Regions from separate parts of the Homo sapiens genome. Here all the other regions are reported to be linked to region 1. The links are microRNA targets in miRTarBase. Many come from high-throughput screens and were not tested one by one. Region 1 holds a microRNA gene; each other region holds the end of a gene's coding sequence.

What was found. Region 1 holds the annotated microRNA hsa-miR-32-5p (UAUUGCACAUUACUAAGUUGCA, at 5,598-5,619, shown strand). A microRNA usually pairs through its seed, bases 2 to 8, with sites in the 3' UTR of a target mRNA and lowers its output. Matches are read on the target gene's strand: a 7mer-m8 pairs with bases 2 to 8, a 7mer-A1 pairs with bases 2 to 7 and ends in A, and an 8mer does both.
Region 2: the mRNA of ARRDC4 is a reported target of hsa-miR-32-5p. Seed matches in the 3' UTR shown: 8mer at 4,733-4,740.
Region 3: miRTarBase lists CAPZB as a target of hsa-miR-32-5p. The part of its 3' UTR that is shown has no 7-base or 8-base seed match.
Region 4: the mRNA of CNOT2 is a reported target of hsa-miR-32-5p. Seed matches in the 3' UTR shown: 7mer-A1 at 5,090-5,096.

The regions. Positions count from the first base shown.
Region 1 is chr9:109,043,163-109,051,890 of GRCh38, reverse strand. MIR32 (microRNA 32) reads left to right here and starts at 5,593; the gene lies at 5,593-5,662. It overlaps TMEM245 (transmembrane protein 245), which reads left to right. Exons shown (of 18, transcript NM_032012.4): 13 at 1,199-1,321; 14 at 1,463-1,608.
Region 2 is chr15:97,968,431-97,977,158 of GRCh38, reverse strand. It overlaps ARRDC4 (arrestin domain containing 4), which reads right to left. Exons shown (of 8, transcript NM_183376.3): 5 at 7,780-8,036; 6 at 7,114-7,276; 7 at 6,416-6,570; 8 at 3,326-6,028. The coding sequence ends at 5,972. Among named protein-coding and RNA genes, the nearest start is that of ARRDC4, 12 kb to the right of the region's middle. RefSeq lists an enhancer at 5,548-6,747.
Region 3 is chr1:19,335,924-19,339,923 of GRCh38, reverse strand. It overlaps CAPZB (capping actin protein of muscle Z-line subunit beta), which reads left to right. Exons shown (of 9, transcript NM_004930.5): 9 at 307-1,149. The coding sequence ends at 394. Among named protein-coding and RNA genes, the nearest start is that of SLC66A1, 26 kb to the right of the region's middle. RefSeq lists enhancers at 1-439, 1,606-2,570.
Region 4 is chr12:70,351,099-70,359,826 of GRCh38, reverse strand. It overlaps CNOT2 (CCR4-NOT transcription complex subunit 2), which reads right to left. Exons shown (of 16, transcript NM_014515.7): 16 at 4,834-5,998. The coding sequence ends at 5,912. Among named protein-coding and RNA genes, the nearest start is that of KCNMB4, 11 kb to the left of the region's middle. RefSeq lists a silencer at 7,592-7,792.

The sequences.
Region 1 (8,728 bases):
ATGAAGTCATTGAGGTGATGCTTTTTATATTTGTAGATAGCTCTAAGTTGGAAATGGCAAGGGTGGGGGCTAGGCAGCCAGTAAAGCAAATACTGGAATTTCATGGCCTGCACTTAGGATCCTACAAGATAAATATAACCACAGGTTGTACTCTAGCATATTCCCCAGGAGGTAAAGTCATGGCCTGTGTCACATAATAATGTCTCTGTTAATGATGGGCCACAAAATGCAATCATGGTCCCATAAGATTATAATACTGTATTTTTACTGTACCTTTTAGATGTTTAGATATACAGATACCTATATTGTGGTTGCCTGTGGTATTCAGTACAGTAACACGCTACAAAGGTTTATAGTTTAGGAGTAGTAGGTTGTATCTTACAGCCTATATGTGTGCTAGGCTTTACCATTTAGGTTTGTATCAGTACACTCTATGACATTTGCAGGACGAAATTGCCTAATGACACATTTCTCAGAATATATCTCCATAATTAAGTGATGCATGACTATATTTTTTCTCTGCTTGCGATTTTTACATAATCTACAATGATGTGTGTGTGTGTGTGTGTGTGTGTGTGTGTGTGTGTGTGTGTGTTTTGAGACAGAGTTTTGCTCTTGCTGCCCAGGCTACAGTGCAATGGTAGGATCTCGGCTCACTGCAACCCCTGCCTCCTGGGTTCAAGCGATTCTCCTCCCTCAGCCTCCCAGGTAGCTGGGATTACAAGCATGTACCACACCACACTTGGCTAATTTTGTATTTTTAGTAGAGACAGGGTTTTACTATGTTGGTCAGGCTGGTCTGGAACTCCTGACCTCAAGTGATCCACCCGCCTCAGCCTCCCAAAGTGCTGGGATTACAGGCATGAGCCACCATGCCCCACCAATTATATATAAAATGTTTTAATCCTGTTTTTTAAATTTAGCATTTCATTGTAAAATATTTTCCCATGTTATAACAGTGATGTTTTTAATTGCTGTCTATATTATTTGGTGTGGATTTACTATTTTCTTTACTATTGAGTATACAACTGTTTTTGGTTGATTTTTCTTTTTTTTTTTAATTTTCATTTGAAATAATCCTCAGTTCTTAGCTTTTCAGTTCATGGTACTAAAACACTGTATTAAAAGCACACTAGATGGCTCTAGAAACTTTTTTCATGAGGATTGGTTCTGATATCCAGCTTTCCTTCCTCGTCAGATCTTGGAGTCTCTGTGGATCGTTATGAGCCGGAATGTGAGCCTGCTGTTCACCACTGTCACTACACTCTTGACCATCCTCTTCTACAGCGGGACAGCCCTTCTCAATTTTGTACTCTCTCTGGTACGTCCACATAGATAAGTACACGTCATATTTCCTTCCCTGTTAAAGCATATTTCTGGTTTCATTTGCAATTGCAGATGTCTGTCTTCCTATAGTTTCCAAATACGATTTTTTTAGGAGATGTTGTCCTTTGTTTTGCAGATAATTTTCCTGACCACACTATTTTATCTATTAAGTTCCAGTGATGAGTACTACAAGCCAGTGAAGTGGGTGATAAGCCTGACTCCACTATCTCAGCCAGGTCCTTCTTCTAATATTATTGGCCAGTCTGTGGAAGAAGCTATCAGGTAGGGATAAGGTTTATGCTATTCTTATTTCTCCCAGAACTTTTTTTCCATGATAAGCCTGTTTTTTGTCATGAGCATCCTGATAACATTCAGTGCTAAACTCGTGATGGACTCTGGTATTTTCAAGGTTTTCATCTCATTTTGACAGGATAAATATGAACAGTGCAGTTGTTAATAAGAAAAAGATTCAGGCCAGGTACAGTGGCTCATGTCTGTAATTCCAGCAATTGAGATTGCTTGAGGCAGGAAGATTGCTTGAGGCCAGGAGTCTGAGATCAGCCTGGACAACATAGTGAGACCCTGTCTCTATAAAAAAATTTTAAAAATTATCTGGGCTTGGTGGCATGCACCTGTAACCCCAGCTACTTGGGAGGCTGAGGCCAGAGGCTTGCTTGAGGAACTTGAGGTTACAGTGAGCTGTGATCACGCCACTGCGCTCCAGCCTTGGTGACAGAGCAAGATCCTGTTTCTTTGTTTTTTGGAGATGGATTGCAGTGGTGTGATCTTGGCTTAGTGCAGTCTCTGCCTCCAGAGTTCAAGTGATTCTCCTGCTTTAGCCTCCCAAGTAGCTGGGATTACAGGCGTGCACCACCACACCCAGTTAATTTTTGTATTTTTAGTAGAGATGAGGTTTTACCATGTTGGCCAGGCTGGTCTCAAACTCCTAACCTTAAGTGATCTGCCTGCCTCGGCCTCCCAAAATACTGGGATTACAGGCATAAGCCACCATGCCCGGCCAAGACCCTGTTTCTTAAAAAACAAAAAAACAGACTGGGCGCGGTGGCTCACACCTGTAATCCCAGCACTTTGGGAGGCTGAGGCAGGAGGATTGTTCGAGCTCAGGAATTTGACACAACCTGGGCAGCATAGCGAGACCTTGTCTCTACTAAAAATAAAAAAGATTAGCCAGGCATGGTGGTGTGAAAGCTGTAGTCCCAGCTACTTAAGAGGTTGAGGTGGTAGGATTGCTTGAGCCTGGAAGATGGAGGCTGCAGTGAACTTGGTCACACCACTGCACTGCAGCCTAGGCAACAGAGTAAGACCCTATCTCAAAAACAAAACAAAATTTAACAATTCAAAGCAGTTTTGATAACCTTCTCTCAAACCTGAGATTTACAAAGATGTAATGGTCTATCTCCATCAGCTTTCCATCAGCAGGATCTTAGACTAGCTGTTAGCATCATGTCACTTGCTTAAGAGAACCCCCGCTTCCACCACCCCCATCTCCAACTTCTTTCAGAACCCTCTGCTGTCAGGAGTTTTAGCTTTGCTCCAGAAGGAGAGTAGGTGGACTTCCTGTTTCTCCTCTGTCCTACAGCCAAGCTGTGCCCTCTGCAAGGAGTAGGTTGGATACTGGAAATGCAGAATCGTTGTTTATCTCTTAAGTTATAGGCTCTGTATGCACTGGAGGTTCTGGCCAGAAACTTTTTCGTTATGACTTCTGGCATCCATGTATTTACAGGCTTTGTTTCTGAATGAACTTCTTCAACTTTTCCTCTGTATAAGCTCTTTCCAGGTCGTTGGCTCTTGGCTTCCTTTATCTTTTCCTCTTCATCATTTCTGGTAGGGAGGACCCTTTTGCAGAGCAGGCCTGTCTCAGCCCCTCCTGTAATCCCTGTCATCATTCCTCATTAACAAGACTCAACTACATTTTTACTTCTTATGAATACGTCTCAAATTAAACCCTCCTATTGTCCATTAGAGCTCCTTTTTCTAATACGTTGTTAACCAGGTGGTCTTAAGCATCTCTTGAATAGCAAATCTTTGGCTGGCATTTCTGTCTCCACATACTTTTAATAAATATTGTCTGGAACTAGTCTTCCACAGAAATCTTGATTTTTTTTTTTTTCTCTGATAATTGCACCTGATTGATCTTGGTATATTTTTTCACTGTGTTCATGTAATAGCTAGGGAGAATCCCATTTGATTGTTAGAAAACCTTCAGTTACATTCAAACAGGATGCATGCTCCTAAAATACAATGTCTGTAGAACTTTTGCTAAGTTCTCTCCCCTTTTCCTACTAGCAAGGCCTGGGTAAGATCTTCACCAATACCTTGTTTCCGCGATTGGCTGTCAAGTGGGATTAAAAAAAATGCTCTTAACACCTGTATAGTGTCCTCAGGTATCCACACAGGGGCCATCTATAAAGATTCCAGATTTGGGAGTATATTATCCAGTGTAACAGCAATTGGGGTGAAGCTGTTTCGAAGGAAGTACCAGCTATAGCTTCCCTCCTAAGTCCTATATGACCATTGACTATCATCTTTGCTGAATAAATGAAATGATGAAAATTCTAGCAATAGATAATCTTTTGTTTATCTAGGTGATATCTTTCTGACTCAGAAAAGCTTTTGCAAATGCTCTACCAAAAAGGAAGGCTAATCTTTTATCTTCCCAGTGGGGTAAAGCTATTTATTGTAGCAGCCATATCAAAGGCTGGTAGGAATTCTCCAGTCAGTGTGGCTTAAGCCAAGCTTTGCAGAAAAATATCTACCTTGTTCATAAAGAACTTCAAGAAAGATGATGCTTCCATTTTCCTCAAGTAATCTTCATTGTTACTGACTCTTATTCTTAGAAAAATGTTTCTATTTTCACATCACAGCTTTTGAATTTTCTCTTGTTCTGCTTTCTTACAGCAGACCATCCTCTAAATGTCTGTCACCTTTTTTCATACCAAATATGCCACCTTTTTTGTTTTAAACTTAATTCCTAGCTGTTGTGTTTGCCAGTCAGTGGTAAGTAAAGCTGTTAGTCACACCTAGGTTCAGCTGATTGAAAGCACATACTCTGTTACACCATGATGCCTTCTTTCAAGAGGAGCTGGTTAGGGAAGATCATGACTTATATTTGTGGACATAAGAGGGTGGCATTTAGAAATTCAGGTCTTTGGCTCAGGAGAGAATTTGAGATTACAAAGAGTGCTGTCATCTACAGCGATATGAGGAAATCAGTCTTTTACAAATTAGATTCGACTTCCCTTCTTGGGAGTGCATACACTAATTATGTATTATAACAGTAGCTTATGTCTTGGTTCCATAGTATACTGGCATTTAAAAACCATTTGTTTTATTATCACCTTATTTTAAATACAGAAAAAATTTTAACAACCTTTGGTACCAGAACTATAATCTAATGGTTCTCAGAATTGATAGATTTTTATGAGTCTGATAAATATGGTACAGACTAAAGAATGGGTTATGGCCTGAGACATTTTTCTAACCAAAGCTATATCAAGTTATGTAATTTTAAGGCTATAATTCAAGGTGTTTTTTTTGCAGTTTAAGTTCCTAGGGCTGTTTCTTTACTGGCTCAAATTCAAGACTTAAAATGTACAGATTTTACAGAGATTCCTCTGAAGAGCTTTCTCCTGTGGAGAAGATGGTAGTGAGTTCTCTTTCTAAGAGCTCCTGTTGGATTTTTCATCCTGAAGGTTTGTGTTGAAGAGGCAATATGTTTCTTCATGGAAAAAGATTTTGAGGGAAAAATAAGTGGTTATTTATAATTTATGAATGACTATGAAAATATTGTAATGTCCTCAAAGTGCAGTTTAGCCTACAAATATCAGTGATACCAACTTTTATAAGCATCAGTCATTAATCATCATCTATGTTGCAGCTAAGTGGAAATCATTACATTCATTTATATGATCTGTGAATAAGTCAAAAATGGAATTGAAATTGGGGGTTAATTGCATGACCAGACAGTGATAGTGTCTGTTCGTGAAGCTTTGCCTTCTGAAGTATGTGGTTTCTTTATGATCACTATCTCATTGAAGTTTTGAACCTTACTCATTATTTTGATTCTGAATAAGTATTCTTCTCAGTTGAATACATTTGCAATTGGGTTTTCATTTCATGAAGTTTTGAGTCAGTGGCATGCATCCTTTATCCCCAGACCATTTTCCTCTCTTCAGCAGCATGTTGTCTCCTGAATGTATACATCACACCCTTCTTCCCTGATGCTCCCATTCTGCTTGCTCTGGTGGAGATATTGCACATTACTAAGTTGCATGTTGTCACGGCCTCAATGCAATTTAGTGTGTGTGATATTTTCACATGAGTGCATGCACACGGGTATGGCTCTTGCTTGCTGGGATTACAGCTTTTCAGTGCCAGTGGGTGGGTGTCCTGATGAATTAGATAAGACAGTGTGTATGCCATGCGATTCTCATTTGGAAAGTGAACATGCTTCCCATCGGTACCTTCCAATTTTGGAGAATTAAAAGTATTTGGATTAAAAAAAGTCAGCAATGATCATTTAGTAAATCAGTGTTTCCATTTTTTACTTTGAGCAAATGAAATATTTATTACAAATTCTCATTGATTTAAGAGTATAAACAATATTTAAATGTATAAGGAAGAATGTAAAGCTGTAAGAAAATGTATTTTCATTTATTTGAAGAAATCTCTCCCAACACTGGAATAGAGAAGCAGAAATCTCTTATGCATATTTGGGGAAATTAAATTAACTGGAGTTCTTAAATAATAATCAAGACAGTAAAGGTATGCTTAACCTACCTGATGAAAGATTCATCTCATAAACTTAAGTTTCCAAGGTAAATTACCTTAAAAATGTGTCTTTTACTTTCTCATTGTGATGCTTCGAAAACTGCTAAATTCATTTTAGTGGGCTAATAATGGAACTAGTTTTGAAATACACGTTTACTATTTGCCTATGTAATTGAAACAACCCCTTGTTATTTTTTTAGTTAGCATTAGAGTAAGCATCCACAATCACTAGGCATTGTCAAGGACACAAAACCATGTATTACTGTATGAAAATATTGAATTAATATTTACTACTACCATAGCCTCCAGATGATCTATTGTGATGCTGTCATTGTATGTTTCTGTGTTTCACCACTGTTTTGGAGGGTGAGAATGGAAGAATTCCACGTAAGCAGCTCATCCCCTGTGCCCTTCAGCAGCTCGGCCGTTCCCCTCATGCTGGAAATCTAATGTCAGCCAGGTTGCTATATGACACCCTGTGGAGCTGGGTTTCCAGGGCAGATTAATCAAGAAAGGGAAGATGTGACCTCTCAAGGGAGGTTGGGGCTGGGAAGGGGTGGGTAGAGAGAGATTTGTTAAAGGATACAAAAATTACTTAGAAGGCATAAGTTCTAATGTTCTACAGCACTGTAGAATGACTGTAGTTCAACAATAAATTATATCATTTCAAGTAGCTAGAAGGAAGATACAGAATGCTCCCAACAAAAGAAATGAGGCCAGGTACGGTGGCTCACGCCTCAAATCCCAGCACTTTGGGAGGCCAAGGCGGGCAGATCACCTGAGGTCAGGAGTTCAAGACCAGCCTGGCCAACATGGAGAAACCCCATCTCCACTAAAAATACAAAAATTAGCTGGGCTTGGTGGCATGCACCTGTAGTCCTAGCTACTCGGGAGGCTCAGGTGGGAGAATCTCTTGAACCCAGGTGGTGGAGGTTGCAGTGAGCTGTGGTCATGCCACTGTACTGCAGCCTGGGCGACAGTGAGACTCTATCTCAAAAAAAAAAAAAAAAACCAAAATGATAAATGATCAAGATGATGGATATGCCAATTACCCCTATCTGATTACTATACATTATATGTATTGAAACATTATTATGTACCCCATAAATATGTAGAGAGCAGTCAAGGGAGCTGGCGAGTACTTTTCCCACTGGTTATTGTATATACTGTGTCTCTAAAAGCTGACTGGTCTCTCCCACCAGCTCACTTTCTACTTGAGACATACCATATTGCAGTGAGGCTAGAATACTGGGAAGGGGAATGACAGTCCTTTAGAAAAGAGGGTGGAACCAGTGTAAGGAAATGTGGAGGAGGCAGAATTTCACTTTGGACTCTTCACTCCTCCTTTTCTTCATTATTTATCTTCTTCCTTAGACAGGTAATTCTTACTCAGCTGTGGTCTAAGGCCCTGTGTACACTGAGTTTATAGAGCTTCTGGACTGGTTTGTTATTCTCCCCATCCCACTCCTTGCTTCAAATATCATTCCATTAAAAGCAGGTCATCTGATTAAATCCTGAATTGTCTTGTTATTTTTTTCTTACTCAGTTTAGAAAAGTAGCAAGCACAATCTGGTTTGTCAGAAAAGAGAGGGTTGAGAGCTAAAGTTAAGTATCAGGAAACGTGTGAAAAAGTAAGTTTCATCCTAGGATTTATAAAGGATGAAGATCAAGAGCTGGTTAGGAAGAGTTAACATTGTAAACAATCATTTGAAGTCAATTCAAGCTTCTGGTGCAGAGGAGTTATTATTAAATATAGTTGTGTAAAGGAGGCATGGATATTCACACCTTTAGTGCCATACGGTATAAATATACAGTAGGCTTTATTAGGGGAAAATCCTAGCTGAGAAAAAGCTGATCCTAACTAACTCTTGGAACTTTTATTCCACAGAGAGGTATGCTTAGGTGGGGCATAGCTGGATTGGATGCACGATGGCCTACCTTCCAATGGACAGGAATCCTGCTCTATAATAGTCTATATATAGTATGGGACAGGAGAACATCTCTAAGACTGTGTAGTAATGGGAGGTCTATGAATAGGGAATAGGCCTTGTTAGAAAACCGTGCCTCTAGCTCAGTGGCTGGTGTGTCAGTCTCTTCTTCCATTGAGCTAAATCACGTCCATCTGAGCTACCAAAAGGAGGGAGGAAAAGAACCTCCAGAGTTTGATTCTCATCAACTATTGAGTGCTAGGAGAGCTTGGACTAAAATTAAAGAACAACTGTCAATAATCTTTGAAGAATCACTGAAGAAAAAGGTCCCAGAAAACCAAGAAAAGGCAGATATTTTTTGAGACATAAAGGTGGAGGAAGCGTATATAGTCCATAAATATTAGACTGGTAAACTTGATGTAAGTGTTCTGTCAATTTCTGCAGTAGGTGCTTGACCACATGGTTGTGAGCAGTTACAAAGGGAAGGGTAATGACCATTGGCACCATGGATCACACAGCACAAGTCATACATGGTCACCTTTAGGGAATGCCAGAAGTCCACGTCTATCGTGATGTTTGCAAGAGATTTGATGAACTGTATCATAATGTCTTTCATAGATAGTAAGACAGGGAAGTGTTTACTGAAATTGACTATCCAAAAAATGTTGACTAACTGGTTTTAT
Region 2 (8,728 bases), not on the chromosome of region 1:
ATTTGTGTGCTGTGTTTTGGGTGCAGCACACCAACATGGCACATATATACATATGTAACAAACCTGCACGTTGTGCACATGTACCCTAGAATTTAAAGTATAATTAAAAAAAAAGAAGCTAGTTAACTGTAGACAATAAATCTTTAGATGTTACTGAATCAACTCAATCAACCAGTTCCAGCAAGTCCAAATATTTGCAGTGGTAGCAAATATGAATAAGCGATCACATATAGAACACTTGCCGTGTGGACAATCAGATGGATTCTGTCATCTAAAATTTAAAAAGCAAAATAAAAAAATACCACGGAAACCGTCATGTTATGGGAAAGTGACTGCATATTTGTAAAGAACACAGTCAATACTAGATGTGTGAGCTGTAAGTAATGTAATCATTATTATTTTGGTCTGGAACATTTTATGTCCTTTAGTCATTAAAATAAGGACCTATGAGGCTGGGGCAGCATGGAGAAATGACTATTATACCATGCAGTGACTTTTTTTAAAAAAGAAAAAACATAAACTTAGGGCATCTATTTCCCCCCCATTTTCTCATTTAATTACAATTCCCTGATACCTTTCTACTAGACTCGTACTGTTTGGGGGCAAACTAGTAAGAAGCTTGGGGCAAAAGACTTCTCTTCCAATAAATTCCTGTGGAAGTAGGAACCTATTATCTGTTTGTTCGTTTTGTAACGGAGCTTACATTCTTACCTGAAAGAGACACAGCTCTGGAGGTAAAGGGTGTGGAGGAGAGGAAGAAATAACAGTGTGTGTGCACATGCGTGTGTGTGCACGTATGTGGCAGGTGTTTGCAAACACGAGGGAGGCACCTATGCTTCCCTTGTTTCCAGTGGGAGAAGCTGCCTAAAGCGTGTCTCTTCCTGTTCAGGAAGACGTCTTGGTTCTCTGAAAATTTGTCAGGGATGGTGAAATCTCCATCAATGAACACAGAAAGCTCCACCAAAGAGACAGTTCATGGCGAATTCAGTTATAGTGACATTCTAGAAGTTGACACTGGTCAACCCTTTCTATCCATCTCCACCCCATCTCGGTGTCTTTCTTTTGCTGCTGCTGCTCATCACCAACAAACTCATGTCTGGTTTTTGGGAAATATTAGTGTGTAATGGCTTCTATAAAATAAGAGCTCTCCTTTCTAGAAAAATTTAATAGTCTTAGAAAATAAGCCCATGTTTTATAGTATTGTTTCATTAGGAATAAACACATATATTGTAGTTAAAAATTTTCTCAGCTTCCGAGTGGTCTTTCCATTTCATCAGATATTAAGAAGTGGGAGTATGAACGAAGGAATTAAAGAAGAAACAGAAAAGAAGAGAAAAAAATCACAAAATTTAATACTCAAACACACCAGGCAACTGTAGTCTCTTTCCTGGATAATTTATGTTAAAATTCATCAGACTCAGAAGCCGATATGATAAATAGCCCAATATAGTTTCTCCTTGTTGTCTAATTTCATCACAGGTCTATCTGGCTCATTTATAATGCAATCTCTTTCTATTTAAAGGCAAAATACTTCAAGTATTTGACAAGCTAAACATTAGCCCTAAAAATTTGTATCAATCTGCATTTACATATTTTGTACATAAAAAGTTCTCAAACTCAAAATCAAAATATTTACAAAGGTATCATGTGCTTATCGATGTCACACATTTTCTTTGCAAGGTGCATAATGAAAATTTCAGAAGTAGTCGATTCTGTTTCTTTTAAAATGTCTCCATTAAAATACAAATAAACAAACTATTGATGCATGGCGCAATTTGCATGGATCTTAAGAGATGTTCTGCTGAGTAAAAAACTGCCAGTCTCAAAAGGTACATACTGAATGATTCCATTTTTCTAGCATTCTCAAAATGACAAAATTACTGAGATGAAAAACGGGTGGGAAGGCTGGGGTGAGGGAAGGAAATGGAGAGGAGGATGGGGTGACTATAAAGGGACAACCTAAGGGAGTTTCTTTGCGGTGATGGAGCAGTTCTGTGTCTTGGTGGTGGTGACGATACGCCTTTCTACAGGAGGTAAAATGTCATGGAGCTATACACAAAAACATACACAAGAAAAATGACTGCATGCAAAGGCTGGCAAAATCCAAGTAAGGTCTAAGCTCTAGCTAAATTGTATTCTCAATGTCCTGGTTTTGCTAATGTACTGTAGTTATTGCAGAAGACCAGGTGATGAGTACACAAGACTTCCTTGTACTATTATTGTAACTTCTTGAGAGTCTGTAATTATTTCATTATATAAATGTAGAAACATAAATCTCTGTTGAAGAAAAGATTCTGGCAACTAAACACACTTGGAAGCAATTTAGTCAAAGACTGGTGTCCTTTCGGGAGGCAGCGCTCTTAAGTGTAAACACTGAAGACTCTTGATTTAGCCTATGCTTAGTATCCAGGTAACCAGGTCTGCAACTCTTAGGCTGTGTAACTGAAAACAATTAGTTGTTCCCATTACTTGTATGAAGATTATAGAATCAGGAAATTTCAGAGCAAGCAGGGACCACGCTCTCAGGTTACAACTCTCTGTTTTGGCATCCTGATTTGTAATGTGAGGGCTTTGTCCTAGTTTCTTTGCAGTGTCTTGCCTAGTTCTAAATTTCATACTACACATAAACTACAGAAATTGTAATGGTAATCAAAAATTTTTCCTCAGTATCGCATAAGACAGATATTTCAACTTACGTTGATTATAAATGTGGATACAGAAAGAACCTATTTATTATGTAACACCATCTACTAGAAATAACTGAAGAGCAAACCAACTGGACTAATTCTTACTCCTTAGTTCAGGTGGTAGTTTTCCAGGCAGAGGGTCTGGGCGGTTTCCTTGAAATGACATACCATCACATCCTCCTTGTATAAAGTATAGTGCTCATATCTACTGGAGTGTTTGCGTAGAAAGGGGTGGCATACTTAGGTCAGTGTGTCCCAGGAAGAGTCCCTTGACTACCCATGAGACCTGCTAAATCGATCCTGGGGAGATTCTGGACAATCACACACTCAAACTCAGGAGGCTTTAAAGAGTAATCCTTATCATTTGGGAATAAATGATGATATGCTTTTTTAACCAATATAGCTTTAGTTTCCTCACTTGTCTCAGCTACTTTTCTTCATGGAATGCTAACACTGGACTACCTTGGGAACCGGAGCCCACTGTAAAAACAAAGTCAGGTTCTAGGGCTGTTCCTCCCTCATGATAACACACCTAGAGAAAAGGATTTCAACTGCAGCAACATTTGTTTTTTTGGCATTGAGTTCCCTTAAGTCTATAATAATTTATATTTGAAAAAAAAAACTAGCACCTCATAGCATTAGTGTAATAATTTTATTAATAAAACGAACCCATAGGGTTCAAACAAGCATACAAAGTAATTTTTTTTCCTGTGGGTTAAATTGTTACATTTTTAATAATAAAAATAAGAAAGCTTTCATAGTTAACTTACCAAAAACATAACGCTTGCCTATTGTTTCTTACTGTGCAAAACAAAAACAAAGTTTTGCCCACAGAAGGATTTTGTGCACCAAAACATGCACATTTTCAATTTCAAAATTTCTGCATCAAAATGAAAATTCCAAGGCCACGTTTTTGTTTTTTCAAACTAAAGAAGAGCAAGAGGGGAATAACCAAGCAAATAACAGCAGCTACATTTTTAATCTTCATTCCCAGGTATTTTCTGTTTCAATGTAGAATTCTCCACATTCATAAAATGATATCTTCAACCTACTGCTTACAGTCAGATATGCCAGTATCATTTCAATAAGGCAAGTCACACCTTTTAGCTATTCTCTTAAGTCCTACAGAGATAGTTTCACTTCAATTTCACAGGGACACTTCATGATTTATCTAATAAAGGTGATAAGACAATCCTAGTGAAGGATTCCTTTAAGTTGTTGCTTTTCTAGATGGAACCAAATAATTAAACTTTCTCTTCTCCATACTGGAGTTTGTTTCTTTCATTATGTTTTAGTATCATGGAGTCGAACAATGCCTTGGCAGGGCATGAACTATATAACTCAGAAGTCAATAAACAGTTGAAGATGATCTTTTCTAAAGTAAAAATCAACTGTTTAGACAACACTTAAATACACATTACCTGTTTAAAGACACACACACGAAAGCAAAATTTAAAAACCAAATCAAGGAATAACGTTTTGTGACAATTTCAGTAGCACAATTACTGGTCTAACAGTTTTGCATTGTGGGAATTTAAATAGCGGCTTACAATGAAAGAACTATGCACGATGCTTCCAGGATTGCAGAGGAGAGAGGTAAGCCCAGAGGATGAAAAGCATACATTTGCCTAATGTGTGTAGAAAATTCCCTGATCAAATGGCCAACTAACTTTTAAATACAAAATTTAACCTTAGAAGAACTTTTCTATTTTTGGTGAACATGCTGATTGAAAGAAAAATCAATCATTCTGTTAAATGAAGTACAGTATTCTGCAGGGGAAGCACCAGGGTTTCTGGATCAAACCCTTAGGACATGAAGAAAACCAAAGTACTCTGCTGGTTCAAAATCTGTATCACAGGAATCCCTGGCTCCCTTCCATGTGTCCAGAGATGCTCTCAGCTCACAAAACCAACAGATGGAAGGAAAAGCAAGTGAACATGTGACCATGTGGGAGGGGGGCTGGGGACGGTAAAACACTGCTCAGACTTTCAGCAGCAACACAATCCTGTTGGTCTGAATATCCTGAGGTTAAATGATAATAAAATATTGCACCAACACAATAAAGAAAATCACAGTTTAAACAGAATTACTGAAGAACTGGAATAATGTACAATGCAGTGACTGCCATCAGTAGACCTAGGTCTCTTGACAGGAATTAAAGTTGTGTCTTTTCTAAAAATGGCACTCCTACCTTCTTTTGGTTTGGTGTTTATTTTGACATTCTCTTAGGTATACATATATTTACTTCCATTTAACGCTAACTTACTGAATTTTCCCCTTGGCCCAGTTTCATATTTAGTGATAGATGAGACTGTGGCTGTAAACAGCAGCAACTCCCAAGAAGAGTACTCAGGGCGAGAGATTTAAAAACATATCTGATAACCCCATTAGAGGTAGGTTAGAAAAAGGCCTTTTATTTGGGACTGTGTAGTTATCAAGGCATCCTGCAGATGCAACCTTTTCTCTCCCTTCTTTCTCTTACATGCTCCTAGGTAAATAAGATATGAGGAAAATCAAACGTATATCCTGTTAAAGCACTTAAAGGGGGTAAAAAGTACAGCCCTCAACAAAACGTGTTTTCACATTGAAATTCATCTTTCCTCTTTGAACCGACAAGCTTTTCAAGAAACCCTTTCTTGGTTTCATAATACCGTACTGCCGATTTATAAACTATATTTTAGTCTACCCTTGAAAGAATGAAAACTGTAGTACTTCATTAGGACCTCATATGACCATGATCTCAAGAAAAGATGCTTTTTCAATGTCTTTAGGCCTGAATATGGTAGGAAATCATGAAGCACCCAAAGACTCAGGATCTCACTTCGTATTTGGAGTGGGCCATTCTCCTATGCACACACACCCTTGTTTTGTTGCCCTCTCCAAAATCAAGTCTTCACCCCTTCAGTTCATATCGCCTTCGTTCCACTCTTCACCATGGGAAACTCCCACAGTGTTTCCACTGTTTACAGATTCCTTTCTCTCACGTCAGCGCAGGCACCCTTTCACTTACTCTGTAACCATCAGGACTTCCATTACATTCTGTGACTTTGCACATCTTCATCCCAGTTTTTAACAGGGATATATATACGACCATCATATAAACTTGTGCGGCAATCCTGCCGGCCCACCAGAACTTTCTCACATTCTTTAATTTCTATTGCCTTCAGTCTTGACGTTCATTTATGTTTTCAAGTGAATCTTTCCTGTCTCTTTCCCAAAAAGGCAGAAGGAAAAGAACCAACATTCTAATTTGATGATGAACACAGTGATTTCTGAAATACGTTCAGAGAATGAAGGAAACAGGCTGGCTCTCTTCTACGTCGCTAGGATGTGGGTCAACCTGCAAAAAAAGAGCGGACTGAGATTAGTGTTGTAGCATTATTTAAAACGATTCTAGTACCTATTTGTAATTATATGATGGTTATATGCCAAGCTGGTCAGAGCCTGTGTAAGTCCCAGAAGGTGCTTAAGTTCTCTATATTCCATGGCCAAATAACACACCTTAAAGGCAATCCACAATACTGTATCTGATGCCATAGATCACAAGGACAATAGTAAAAAAATCTGGCAAATGAATCAGCGATAATCTATTACCACTGTATAAACAAATTTAAATGTATCCCTTACTAATTATGAGTCAGCAACAGACACTCTAATGAACGGATGACAAAAAATGATTATTTGAAAATAATACAGTAAAAGTCTAATTTTCTTTTGCTTTGCTTACCTCTGAATAAAGAGGTGGGGGTTGAAACCGGAATTCTTGTATACAGGCAAACACAGGACAGCACACTTCTCCCTCACAGTTAGGGGGTTGAGGGTAAGGAGGAATGTGTCTAGAGAATTCTTCCTCTGATACCACATCTGCATAATTTGGTGGTGCTGAAATAGAAATGAAGTTGGAGTTAAGAAATCCACTCAAAAATTAATCTCGATTCTTAACTGCTACAAAAACAAGAAACAGCTAAACTTGAAGATAAAAAATATGGCATTCTTTCCCTCTAATCAGCAAGGTTTTATGCATATTACAATAAAAAATAGATTCTCCTTTTATTAAACTACTACTAATAGCTTCTATTCTAGTCTCTTGAGATATAGGTAAACAAATATCACTGAAATATGACTATAGAAAAGACATAACACACCATACATTTGACTGTTTTTCATTGTTTTCCTATTACAAATAGGAATTAGGAAATGTACATCTTATTCCTGAATCTGCTATCAGCAGCTTTGCGTCCTAGATAAAGCTAAACTTTCAAAGTCCCTCCCAGGACTAATGCTTTCTGATTTTTTAGTAGTAGGAATAAAGATACCTATAGTAGCAGTACTCATCAACATCTGAGCACTTAATAGTGTATATATTCTGTTCCTAGGTATTTTCTAGGTAAAGCTTCGTTATGAAAGAACGCCAACATATTTTACCTTCAGGCTGCTCTGGCAGGGTCAGTGTCAACCAGCTCATATCCATACTGAACTGGCTGGCAATGCTGGAGTTTCTGCTGCCAAAACCATTATATGGAATTGTACCGATCACTAATGGCAGTTCGAGCATCAATTTTTTAGCACCAGGAATGTGAATGTATACCTAATAAGCCAAAAAAAAAAAAAAAAGAGAAAGGAACAAATGTAAGCTACACCTCCAGTAGGTAGCCCAATTAATTTCTTTTTTTCATAGAAACAAATGCTTTTGTCGGCTGCCACCACCCCCATCACAATTCTCAATTGTCTTGATTAAACAAAATGAAGAGTACACAAAACATAGTGAATGCTCTGTGACAGAGAACTGTGTCCTTAACATGCATCATTGTAGGTTTGCATGGCTTATATAATAATTATAGAAAATTAAGGCTATGTCTTCAATATAACAAACACCCCTTAATGCACCTCAATTCTTTTATGGCATTCTATTAAATCCCCTGTGGGGAATAGGTTTTATTAAAAACAAGGGCCAATCTTCATACAGTCCCCAATTGGTGTTAATGCTGAAATAAAATGACATTTTTATAGGCAACTCTACATACCCACAGTAACATGACATCAGTTATTGTCCATCATACACATTTTTTTTTAAAAAAGAGCTTTGCTTACAGCTAAGGAATAGTCCACTCTGATAATGCAGCAATCCAGGATGGATGGAGTAACAGGTGGGATTTTTAGCGTTTTCCCATTCCATGTGTCTGTGCTCCCAGAAGCGATGTGGTTTCCTCGCACATTGGCGACCATGTGTCGAATGGTCTTTGTTTTTCCACTAGCCAAATATGTCTGCGTTTGGAAAATAGCAGCCTTTGGAACAATCAGACGAGAGGAACAATTTTCTATTTCTGCATAGATTGGAATAGCTTCTCCTAAAAAGAAAACAAAACCAGGGAGGATTCAGAGACTCTTGAAAAAGTTCTCACCACAATGGATTAGGGCCGTATAGCTGAAATGTTCCAACATCACTTTAACAAATTGAGAAGCTTTGATGGAAAACATATTGTAAATTCAAGCCAGAGAAATAAAAATTCACTGCAGGTTGTGGTAGATCTTATTTTCTAATTATTGCATTATTGACTTTTCTAAAGTAGCAATATTGCATTAGCAATTCTAAAGATATGTAAATGACCAGTGTCTATATAAATTAGGATAAGACATACAAATAAATGATTCAGGACTATGTTAAGTATAAAAGATCACTAACAAACTCATTAGTGCTTATCAAATTAAAATCTGCCTAACAGGAGAACAAAGCCTTTGCTTTTAAGGAATTAATAATGTTAAGGCACAGAAAGAATCAACGGATGGATTAGGCAAGTTTTATAACATTATGGCTGCACATCATACCATTCCATACTGAATTCCTTTCTAACAAGTCAGAATCCTGGAGCAGGGGCCAAATCCACTGCTGGAAATGGGCCCTTCACTAATGGCAATTCCAGTAACAATCTGATTGTTAAGTTTGTTAATACACTACATTCCAGTCCCATGCATTTGCATATATCAAGCCAGCATGGAATCAGAATGTCTAATAGCATTTCATACTCCAGTAGTTCTCTTT
Region 3 (4,000 bases), not on the chromosome of region 1:
TGAACTTAGGGTTCTAGGGACTATGGCCGGGTCACCGGTGGCCAGGGGCAGAGATGAGCACCTGTCCATGTAAGCCATATGCCACCCCCACAGGGCCTGGCAAGGTGCAGAGGGTGCAGGTCTCGGCCATGTACCCCTTTGCCCCTTTCTGAGAGGGGCAGATGCCCAGCCCAGTGACCCAGAGCCTCACCCCAGGAAGCGGGTCCATGCAGCAAATCAGCCAGGCACTGGCATGGTGGCCCCCAGGCCTCCACCGCCTCACCAGTCCCTGTTCAATCTGCTGATAACGCCTTTCCTCCCTTGCAGGTCTGTGCAGACTTTTGCAGACAAATCAAAACAAGAAGCTCTGAAGAATGACCTGGTGGAGGCTTTGAAGAGAAAGCAGCAATGCTAAACCTCTGTTTCATGCTAACCAGACACGCCGTGCACTCGTTAGATTCCTTTCTTAGAAAACTCGTTTTCTGCTCCCTTCCCTCGTCCCTTCCCTCCCCGACAGGTCACATAACAGCTGCATCATTGACCGCACAGCGCCATCTCTCCCTGAGAATAAAGCCGATAGCCACCCTCCTCCGGCTCCGAGCCTGCTTCTGCCACACCTCGCTCTCAGTTCTCTCCACATTTCCATAGAGACCGTGTGGTTTTTGTTCACCCGGGCCCCCCGTCTTCCTCCCTGTCCCCCCATTTATAGGCATAAAATCCACTGTCTGCCAGCCTCCCTTCCCTCCCACCTTTTTGGTACATTGGTGTAAAAAATGTAAAACAAAAAAATTTTATGAACTAACTGTGGTGTGTGAAAGAGAGAAGAAAAACTGGAAATCTTATTCCGTGTGTGTTTGGGAGTTGCTTGGGGTTGGGGGTCGTGGGGACAGGGGACAGCTCTGGGAGCAGAGGTGGCCCTCGGTGCCGTCCTGCGCAGACTCTCCCGTCCCACGGAGGCCGCGGGGTGGGGGCTGGGGGGGGTGCCGCCGACCGTTCCGCTCTTCCGGCCAGGTGCTTTTCTGTCAATTTCTATGGAATGCAAAAGGAGGTTTTTGTTTTATTTTGTTTTTTTGTAAAGCTTAAGAAAAAAATCTACATCTTATACTTGAGCCTCCATACTTAAAAAAAGAAAAGAAAAGAAATCAATAAAAAGAAACTGGGGCGCAGTTAGCGCTGGCCTTCTGTGTTCCTTCTCGCCGGCCTCGCTTTCCGAGCGCGTGTGGCCGTGGCCGTGCGCTGGCTCCAAGCTGGGACGCGTGTGGGCCCCGCTCACGGCAGCAAGGAAGTGTCCCGTCCCCAGCCCCGCCGCCCTGAAAACACCAGGTATGTGATGAGGTGCAGAGTCCCTGTCCCTTTCCGCCCTCTGCCGTTGGAGGGCAGAAGCACCAGCAAACACTGTTCTGGCGCCGCAGCACGCACCTCCCGCCGCCTTCCCACTGTGCCTAGTACAAATGTGAGGCAGCCGAGGTTCAGTTGCAGTAACTCAGCCAAGGCTGCACAGAGCCACAGAGTCTGCCTTCTACCCTCCAAACTGCCCCAGGGAAGATCTGAAGCAGATCTCAAAGTCCCTGCCGAGACCATCCCCCCATCTGTCCGTGGCCAATCAGCGGGCTCCACAACCTGGCCAGCCCATGTGTTTGAGGTCCCTGGGTCTGATGCAACATCTTTTTTTTTGAGACGGAGTTTCACTCTTGTTGCCCAGGCTGGAGTGCAATGGCATGATCTTGGCTCACTGTAACCTCCGCCTCCCAGGTTCAAGCGATTCTCCTGCCTCAGCCTCCTCAGTAGCTGGCATTACAGGCATGTGCCACCATGCCCAGCTAACGTATTTTTAGTAGAGACGGGGTTTCTCCTTGTTGGTCAGGCTGGTCTCGAGCTCCCGATCTCAGGTGACCCTCCCGCCTCCCAATGTGCTGGGATTACAGGCGTGAGCCACCGCACCCGGCCGATGCAGTATCTTTATGGAGTGCAAGTGCCATGGCATACAGACAGCAGAGAAGCCCCTGCCCCCTGAGTTCCTAGTGCCACGTGGAGAACGCAGGCACACTCCAGCCGTGAGCCATGAGGGGATGCACCCAGCGAGCCGTTCCCCATGGGCACACGGGTGTTGCAGCCTCCCGGGGTCATGTTGGCAAGGTGCCTGGCACACAGAAGGGCCCAGCGAGCTGTTCCCCATGGGCACACGGGTGCTGCAGCCTCCCGGGGTCATGTTGGCAAGGTGCCTGGCACACAGAAGGGGCTGGAAAAACAAATGTTTTGCTTTTCATTTTCTTTCATGGTAAAGTTTTATCCAGGATCATCAAGGTAGGTACAGGGGCCACTGCAGTGGGGTCTTGTGGATGGGGAGAGAGATTGGGCTCAACTCTGAGTGCAGCAGCACGGGCAGGTGGGGATTAGAGCCAAGGAGCAGAGGGGGGCAGTGGGTGGAAAATGACTCAGAGGAAACCTCAGGGGTCAGGGGTCTTCCGGCCAAACACACCTAACAGGATTCTTGCTGAAGACAGGCCAGGGTGACCAGACATCACCTGGGGGTGGGGGTGGAGGATGAGGCCAGGTGTGGTGGCTTACGCCTACGATCCCAGCACTTTAGGAGACCAAGTTGGGAGGATGGCTTGAGCCCAGGGCTTTGAGACTAGCCTGGTTAACATAGACCCCATCTCTACAAGAAATACAAACCAGGCGTGGTGGTGTGCACCTGTGGTCCCAGCTACTTGGGAGGCTGAGTTGGGAGGATCACTTGAGCCTGGGAGGTTGAGGCTGCAGTGAGCCGAGATCGTACCACTGTACTCCAGCCTAGAAGACAGTGAGATCCTGTCTCAAAAAAAGAAAAAAAATATCAAGGATGGCCGTTTTTGTAAAATTGACTTAGCAAGGGATTGCTGAAACTGGATTTTACAAGGGCACACAGGTGGGCCTAGGGGAAGGTTCAGGAGCCTGACTAAAGTTTGGCCAAGCAAATAATCTTTGGCAGTTGTCACTTCAAGAAGAAACTGGACAAATGGAAAATGCCTTTCCTTGGACACATGAGAGGAGCTGAGGTCGCAAGGGAAAAACAGCCACCCCTGAAGTCAGTGAGACAGGCACACCGGGAACGCCACAGCAGAGGCCTGCTGTCCTGCAGCAGAGGCTGCTAGGCTGGGAGCTGCTGTGCACGCCAGTGGTAATTCCACAGAACTGCAGAGGTGGAGTGGACTCTGACTCACCTGAGAGTCACCCCTGGAGGCTCAGGCCCGCTCTCCTCTCAGGGGATTTCCCTTCAGGAAACCCACCAGTTGCTCCTTGAGCTGTCACTTTCATCAGCCGTACAATCCTGGGACCAAAAATAATGCTTGAAACCCAGAAATTGTGACTGCGATGTATGACAGGCCTGATCTTGCTCTGCTATCTAGAATCTTCCACAGGGACCCTCACTACCAGTTGGGTTTTTTTGTTTTTGTAGAGACGGGCCCTCACCCTGTTGCCCAGGCTGGTCTCAAACTCCTGGCTTCAAGCGATCCCCCACCTCAGTCTCCCAAAGTGCTAGGATTACAGGTGTAAGCCACCACGCCCAGCCCTCATTGCTAGTGTTGTGTTGTTTTGTTTTATGATGGAGTCTTGCTCTGTCACCCAGGCTGGACTGCAGTGGCGTGATCTCGGCCCACTGCAACCTCCACTTCCCAGCTTCAAGCGATTCTCCTGCCCCAGCCTCTCAAGTAGCTGGGACTACAGGTGCCCGCCGCCACGCCCAGCTAATTTTTGTATTTTTAGTAGAGGCCGGGTTTCGCCATGTTGGCCAGACTGGTCTCGAACTCCCGAATTCAAGCGATCCCTCCCCCAACTTGGCCTCCCAAAGTACTGGAATTACGGGTGTGAGCCACCGCACACAGCCCTCACTGCTAGTGTTTTAATGCTAAACTCAGCTGGTGAGATTGGGGACAGTGGGCCTCGAGGATGTGTTTGGTGACCCTCTCCCACTTCCCAGCCATGCCTTTCCCTGCTCGTTCCTTGGCTGCCTGGTGAGGAAAGCTCTGGGGTCCAGCAG
Region 4 (8,728 bases), not on the chromosome of region 1:
AAATGTCACTTAGGCCAAAAATAAATGCAAATCACAAAAACATTACATTTCAGGAAACACATACAAATTAGAGACCAGCTCTGATTCATAGTAAAGATTTGTTTTCCTCAGCTAGTGCCTTCAATTATTGTCTAAAAGAACTAACACTTTTGGCATAAAGCCAGTTTTATTTAATCTTCTCTAAGAAAGATGTCAAAACATTTTGGTGGTATGGTATGGCCTTTCAGGCCTAGAAATGAAAACTAAGATAAATTTCAAAAAGAATGAAAAATTGGCTTTGCTATGTAGAAGATAGTTTAAGTATTTTAGCACATGTCAACTGGTTATCATATGCTATTTGACTATGCAATAATTTGGATTTTCAAGATAGAGAATTATGACAATTAGGACCTTGTGAATTTTGACACTTTCAAGAAGTCATTTAAATAACTGAGAGAAAACTGTACAATAAACATGGAAATGACTAGCTTTTTAAAAAGCCCTATAAATCTTGAGTTCTTATGATAAAGAGACATGTCACTAAAATCTTGTCACAGTATTTACACAACTGTTTAATTGGATTAAAAAACCTTCAATTAATGCATACATAACTGATAATGTAATTCCCATTACATTATCAGTTTTTATACATACAAACTGAAGAGGAAATCTTAAGATCAGCAGAAATATTCCCAGGAAATAACTGAGATAAAAGCACTTTTGCTGTTTTATATTTATATATGGATTCAGCTTTCCTCCTGTTCTGCTAACAAATACTATTGTAGTAACATGGTTTCTGCCCTAGAACATTGGATGTTATAGGAAAAAGTAAATGAATGCCCCTGATACACAGGGATTATAATATTTAGTGGGATTTTAAGAAACAAGATTTTATTCTACTTAGTACTTGTACCCAGGAGATTGCACACTAATGCAACGTACAATTTCAGACTAAACATTTACGTCAAAACTTAAAAATTGTCTTTTTCCTCTTTCAAATGTAGAAATATACACATAAATAAATCTGGTGAATACACACATACATATGATTACTATTTGTTGTGCTTTATTAATGTTTCACATTCCTACTCCTAACATCAAAACAACTCTACATGTAAGTTCAATAAAGTTGCCTTTTGTAATTCTTTTTTGATTTAAATTTCTTTCCAAAGATATAGCAGTGATTTTAAGTATACCTTATCCATGATTCACAGAACAGCATATTCTTATGTACTTAAAGGTCAATGCTTTAAGTATATACCTTTTAGCCCTGATGACATCATAGTCTCCAACTTCAAATCAAGAAAAGGGTATCAGTACCTTAAAGAGCTGAAAAGAGGTCTGGAAGTAATCACATTCAACTTTTTATTTAAAAAGGCAGTCCTGTCAACTAATTGAGAGTCATTCAGTTTGTTTGCACATTGACTGAACCTTTACTTCATGAAGCAGCTAGTACTGTGTAGCACCTTAATATAGAAAAAGTCTGTTTCATTCAACTTCTCCTTATTGGTTTGAGACTTGCCCTATTCCAGTTCTTCCTGTGTTTGATGACAACTGTCATGCCTCCCCTTAGTATTCTTTAGTTGTCTCCAAGACCTACATCTCATCAATTCTAAGATGCACGTTCTTTCTTCACATAATAGATACATTCTGTAATTGGCAGCTTGTCTTAGTGGTACATAAAATGGTGTCCCTTACAATTGATGGCAATTAGATTTGCTGAAATACAGTAATTATCTCACTTACTTTAACACTTTTTCAATGAGCCACAGGAACATTAAGACATTCAACTCCTTACCTTATGCACAGAACACTATCCAGCCAGTCTCTCCTAGGTTATGTCCTATGAAGTTAAATCTAACGCCTTACAAAGCAACTGATTTAAAAATCTGAATTAACTCAGTTACTTTTTAATATTGCACTGAAATCCCTTATTTGTCCTAGTTCTGCTCTTCCAGTCACAAGAATGAGCTTAATTGCCTTTCATTGACAGCTCTTGAATTTGATACCTGAAGACAAATACCATGTTTCCAAAATTGTATTCCTATTTGTTTTTAAAATTTACTCTAAAATGGGAACACTAAATTTCACCTCATGATGCTATTCTTCAGACAACAATGTATATAAAAACACACAGCATTTGCCAGGCAGCTAGAAGGCATGCTACTTCTCCATCCCCTTCTGCCTTCCCCAGGCATGGCAGCTCTTCTAATACAGCATTCAAACAGAAGATGACATTTCAGATGAGTGATTACTTCCAGTAGAGTGGGCTTCCTATCTTTTTCTGAGTGCTATATTTTTCTTAATGTAGCTGAAGATTACATTAGTATTTTTGGCAACAGGATCACAATTCTTACTGATCTATATATGAACCACTCAAATCATGTTATATTCCACCATTCTTTATTAACAATCAAAGTGCAAAACTAAGTAATTTTCTTGATTGAATGTATCCTATTTGATTCAACTCTACACACCAAACTACTTGGTTAGATTTAGATCCCAATTTTAACCTTCAGTGAGTTTATTTGCTTCATCTTCCAGATCTGTCATGTATTCATGGTATAATCAAAGTCACTGGTAATGCCAGTGGCAAGGAGACAGCCTTGTGACCTGCCATTAGGATCCAACTTTTAGAAAGTAAAGGCATCTCAATGTCTGGCTTAGTTCATTCTCCAGAGACTATCTCAATGGAACCTAGTTAGTAGATATTTCTAGATCTTATTAACTACATAGACAAACCATGGTTAATGTATTATACAATCCTGTTTCCACACACGTATAGGTTTTCAGCAACTTTTTGCAAAATTGAGCTATTAAATCTAAGTTAAATGAAATGAGTCCTACTGTACAGCCATGCTCAGATGCCACATATTTTATGAGCAATGGATATAACAAAGTGGAAGATCTATGGCTTGTGAATAGAAGAGGATTTATCAATTAGAGAAGCTATAGACTGGAAAAATTTGAAATATTTAAAAGTTATTGAAAATGCTTAAAAAGATTATTGTGAAAATGAAATTATAGCAAATGATAATTGAGTAAGCTATCTCAAAGCCCAATGCTTTATACTTTATTTTCAAATTGAAATATCAACTTTTATCAGTCAACAACTATCAAGCACCTGCTTTGTCCCAATTTCAGTGTCAAAAAGAAACAGACTAGTTATATATACTTTAAGAATTAACATAAACTTTCAGTTCTTAAAATGTATTATATCTAAGGAAAACTATTTGTGTAGTTAAGTCTCTGAAAATAGAGCTTTAGCATATAAATTATAATACCACCTAAATAATTATATTTGAAACCAAATAAAGGATTTCCCTTTGCAATTAAATAGCTTTTATTCCCAGAAAGCCAATCATAGTTTAATCTAAAAAATTTATTTAACATAGTGTACACATCTATTTCACTAGCTATATAGGGGGAAATTAACAGAATTAAAGCTTTGAAAGAAAATGTGAAATATAATTAGTTGGATTCAGCCTCTTTACATGTATAACCACGTTATAAAATCAAGGCGTATTATAACTGTTACATTTAAAAAGTTCAAAGTAGTGTTTTAAATATTTCAAATAGAGTAATTTGTATTTTGAAGTCCATAGCATGGTAATTTCTGATATTAACAAGTTATAAAAAGTTGGCTAACATGCAAGAGTTTCTTCATTTTGATGATTCAGGATAAAAAGAACTCAAAAAAATGGAAAAGTGTGCATTTAAAACTCTGTATATGGCAGTTAACAAAAAAAGAGAAAAAAAGATTACAGCCAAGACAACAAACCACTTGGTATGAGCTATCTTATTTTTCGGAGTCATTCATCAGTACCAGTCATGATCACGCTTCAGCTGAGACTTCAATCTATATTGTTGTTTATATTCATGAGAATAAAGATCCCCTTCCACATTTTTCTTCCTACTTGTTTTTTGTGGTTATGTAGGAAAAATTACATTTTATTTTACAAAGTGAATTACTAGGAAAAATGTAATCTTTTTTTTTCTAGATTGATTTCTATGCTTTGACTCTGGTTTATGTCAAATAAGGTATAGTGTTCTGTGAAGGTTTGTGCACAATAGATAAAATGATTTATATAGTGCTATCTTTCTTACTGAGGAGATGCTTTGGTTTAATTATGAAAGATAGAAAATCCTGTTTTTTATAGTGTTTCTCATATCTCAAAATGCATAGAAAAAGGTAAATTTTAAGCCACTTTATATTCCTGGTACACAAACACAGCAATGTCATAAATGTTTCATTTTCAAAAGATTTGGTTAATGCCAACAGACTTTTACTCTTCATAGAAAAATAGGTTAAAAATGAAAATTTAAAGGATCAAAACTCATTGCCTTTTTTCTACTCTCTAGTTCTGCTTTGGAAGCTTCAATCTTCTGATTTTTAAAATACAGTATTTGTATTTAGATGGGAAAAGAATCCACTAACTTGTAAATATGAGATATCTAGGCCAGCAAACTGAAGGTAAAGTCTACCCATTCCCACCTTATGGCTTACCTTCATTTGCACATTACTTCTTAAAGATAAATTTAAAGGTCTATCAAGAAATTTCTCATAAATTTTTCACAGAAGTACTTTGGTTGGGTTCCAAGAGTATTCAGAATGTTTTATTTCTAATGCTGCCACAACCCATTTAAAAAAGTTTTCTCTGATTAATACTGTCTACATTTTTAACCTACAAGTGAAACGGTTCACTATATTTCCATTAAATTACTTGTTGGAAGCTGAAAAAGACATTTGAGTCACACCATTCAGTTTGATATCTGTAAAACTTCAGTTTGTTTCCTCTATTTTTCATGTTGAAGAAATAATTTCGCAATTTCAAATCAAAGCCAACACTGCAGTGAGGAGAGCTTTTCTACTTTATTACAAAGAGAAGAAGCCTTTATGTGGTCAGAAAATACAAGATTGATCTTTTTTTCTCTTCCTATGAAACGCTGCTGTTCAAACAGCCAGAGTGAATTGTCTCAGTTCACTTCTTTTAAGTCCCATCACATTCACTTGGGTATGGATGTCCTTGGCTGCTGAAAATCTGGCCCTTTTAGTGCACAGGGCGACAAAGTCCCCTGACCAGCAGTTCCAGAATGTCCCATTTTCATATATTGCATCCATGCACACCTCCTAAAAATGAGGTACAGCAGGGCAAACATTTTCCAAAATAGATGTCATATATATAATATATACACATTCGTACATACATACCTTTATTCATGTGATGTCCAAAAATTTAAAAAAAATGTACACATTTATTACAAAATCGTAACAAAGACTGGACAGTGTTTTGCTCATTCTGGAAAGATGAAGCTCAGTAATAACACAACCCTGGAAAACCATCCAGAGATTGTGGCAATATCTTTCTTCTAAACAGTCAGATATTCTTGCATTAAGCTTGGCGAAACTGCCTTTCAAAAACAGAAGGGGAAGTAAAATGAAGGAAGCAGACCTCTTGCTCATCTTTCCAAATGAAATACGAGAAGGATCTTCACATAAAAATGCACAAACATTTGTTATTTTATTACCAATAGTGCTACAATGAACAATGCAAAATTTGTGGTCTAATTTTCTTGAGTCTTTTGGGGGTTTTCTTTTTTACATTTTAGAAACTATGGTAAACTTCTGTCAGTGTATTTGCTTGTCTTTACAGACTCAAGTCTGTCTGCTGGCAAAAAAGGAAATAAATGAAAAAATTCAGACCCTGCTCAAACTAGAGAAAAACAAATTACAAATTTAGTTGTTGGGCAGCACATAATTAGTAAGGCAGGACCTCAAATGGTGACCTTTTGCGTAAGCCAATTGCCAGATCCTCAAGGAATTAAAACCAGGGTGCCTGAGCCACATCAGTTCTGCAGTTATGTTGAGTATTGTGCTGAGACAGCCATACCCCAAGAAAAGGGAAGTCTTTTTTTTTTTTTTTTTTTTTTTTTAGAAGGCTTGCTGAGCAGGGTTGTAGTTGAAGGTGGATGGCAGGTGAGGCCGTTCTTCTAATTTGTCATATTCCAGATGGAACTCCTATAAAAACAAATTCAAGAATTTAGATATCTTCCCCTTTTCATTTTACATTTGTCAAAATACATTTTACTATAAAAATAAATAAAATACCCAATATATATGAATCAACATCAACACAGATATACCAACTGTTTTTCCTCTACATAAAATACAGCTTGAAGAAAAATAATGTGCTGTAGTTTCTAACCAATGAGTACAAAAAATACAGACAGGCTTTCTGTGTGTAAGTCAAGAGACTACTAATGGACCACTTGACACTGAAATGTTGTGTATTGTTTTTAACTTAAAAAAAGAGGGGGCAATTACTGTATCTCTGAATCACTGGAAATTACAGGATATTTAAAATAAAGCCCCCTTCAACGAAGTATAAAAACCTAAAGATTTTGTCCATGAAAAAAGTTTAGAAATAATTTTCCAAATTGTCTTTATTACATTTATATTAAAAAATAAGCAGGGCCGCGCACAGTGGCTCACGTCTGTAATCCCAGCACTTTGGGAGGCTTAGGTGGGCAGATCACGAGGTCAGGAGATCAAGACCATCTTTACCAATCAACATGGTGAAACCCCGTCTGTACTAAAAATACAAAAATTAGCTGGGCGTAGTGGTGCACGCCTGTAGTAGCAGCTACTCAGGAGGCTGAGGCAGGAGAATCGCTTGAACCTGGCAGGTGGAGGTTGCAGTGAGCCAAGATTGCACCACTGCACTCCAGCCCAGATGACAAAGCAAGACTCCGTCTAAAAAAAAAAAAAAAAGGAAAACACATAAAATTATTCTAACCTCATTAAAATCTGGGGAAAATAATGAACTTAAAACTCACACATCACTAGACTTGCATTTCACAAACCCAAAACCCTGACTCAAATATAAATCAACTGCCACCGAAAACTAGACAATGGTTCTGCTGTAGGAACATTTGAAAACTAGATAGCAGCTCACTTTAATCAAACTTTCAAAATACTGTATTAACTTCATGAGTTTTAAAATTTAAGAATGGTGACATAATTTCTTCATGATACTTCCCACCCAAGATCAAGAATAGAGATGCAGAATAGCTATGTATATTAGAAAAAAATGCAAACAACAAATACCTCTGCAACCCCAATAAGCAAGAGGCTCTAAAAGCCTCTTACCAATTCTACCATCTGAATTAGCACAAATTACTGCATAATCCAACTTAAAGAATTATGAAGCTTAATATGTATTATGTATTAAAGATTAAGGCAACAAGTGACATTAGCTACCATGGGTTAACATATTTTACCTTATCTGTCTGGTTTCAAACTGATTCCATGATGAGTATTTCCATTATTAAATTAAAATGAAAACCTAGACTATAATGACCAAATTTTAAGATGGAACACCAAGTATTTAAAATTTAAAGATATTACACTTAAATAAATTTAAAGATATTACAGACCTAACAGCAGAATTTATTGAAAGCCTAGTATGTGCTAAAATTAGAGATACAGCTAATTTTATTCTAATCTTTGTAATAATTCTGTAAAGCAGATATCATTATTTTCATTTTGTACCTGAAGAAAATGAGGCTTACAAGTAACTTGGACAAGTCATCAGTAAGCGGCACACCTAGCATTAGGATCCAGACCCATGTGACAAAAAGCCTCCATGTGACAAAAAGCCTGTGTCTTTTGTAGTGTAACACATTATTTTTAATATTTTTAGTCCAAGATCCAAAACAGATTCATTTACTTCATTACAAGGCAATCCAGAAATGCTGAAAGAATTCAGTCCCCTTCTCTCTTGGTATAAGGTGAAGAAAAAGGAAAAAAAAAATCAGTCCCCTGAGAGTTTATAAAGAAGGTACACCATGGTGACTTTAGCCTGAAAAGGTTGCCTTCATGTGACTGGTACAGTAATTAAGACACAGAGGTTATTTGCTTATCAGTAAAAATTAGCAAACACCAGAATCACCACCACAACCATGACATCCTGCCCTAATACACTGTGTAGCACTACTCCCCCTCTCCCAGCCCTAGCTAGGAATTAAAATAATTTTATTGCTTGGTTCAAGTTGACTATCTGAATTCGTGAAGAAAATTTGTTATCATTCTTCTGAAATTAAAATTGGCATTTTTGTTTTCAAAATGTGTAGTTACAGGGAAAAAAAGTCTAATTGTAACTTCCACAAAGTGGTAAGTTATACTGAGTAAGTTAACTAAAATTTTTCACATTGATGAACTACAATGTATGACTAGGAATTCAAACTAGATTAACTTTATCAATGTACATTTTCCCCCAGAAAAATATAGTTTAAACCTAAGCAGCGTAAATAATTTTGATATAGAGATTTAGAAATTTTGATATAGAGATCAGAGATTTAGAAATTACATAGGTAAAATTTTGCCTTCCACGTTTTAAAATCTTGTTTTCCACGTACTTTTATTCTTCTTAAAATACATAAGTTACTTTGATTACTGGTAACACCATTTACATGTTTGTTATATATACACACACATACTACACACATGCACAACCTCATACATTCTGTAGGAGCAAGTGTCTATCTACTTTGTATACTACTACCTACAACTTGGAATAGTGCCAAGCCCCTAATGGATGTGTAATTAATATATGATGAATAAACACAAGCTTTCTTCCTTTGTTTTAGGAACAAAACATTTAATTTTTCTAATATTATCAAATGATACATTAGAGGGTCTATGTATATATTTGCTTTTAGTGGAAAAAAAAGGATTTCTAGATTATAA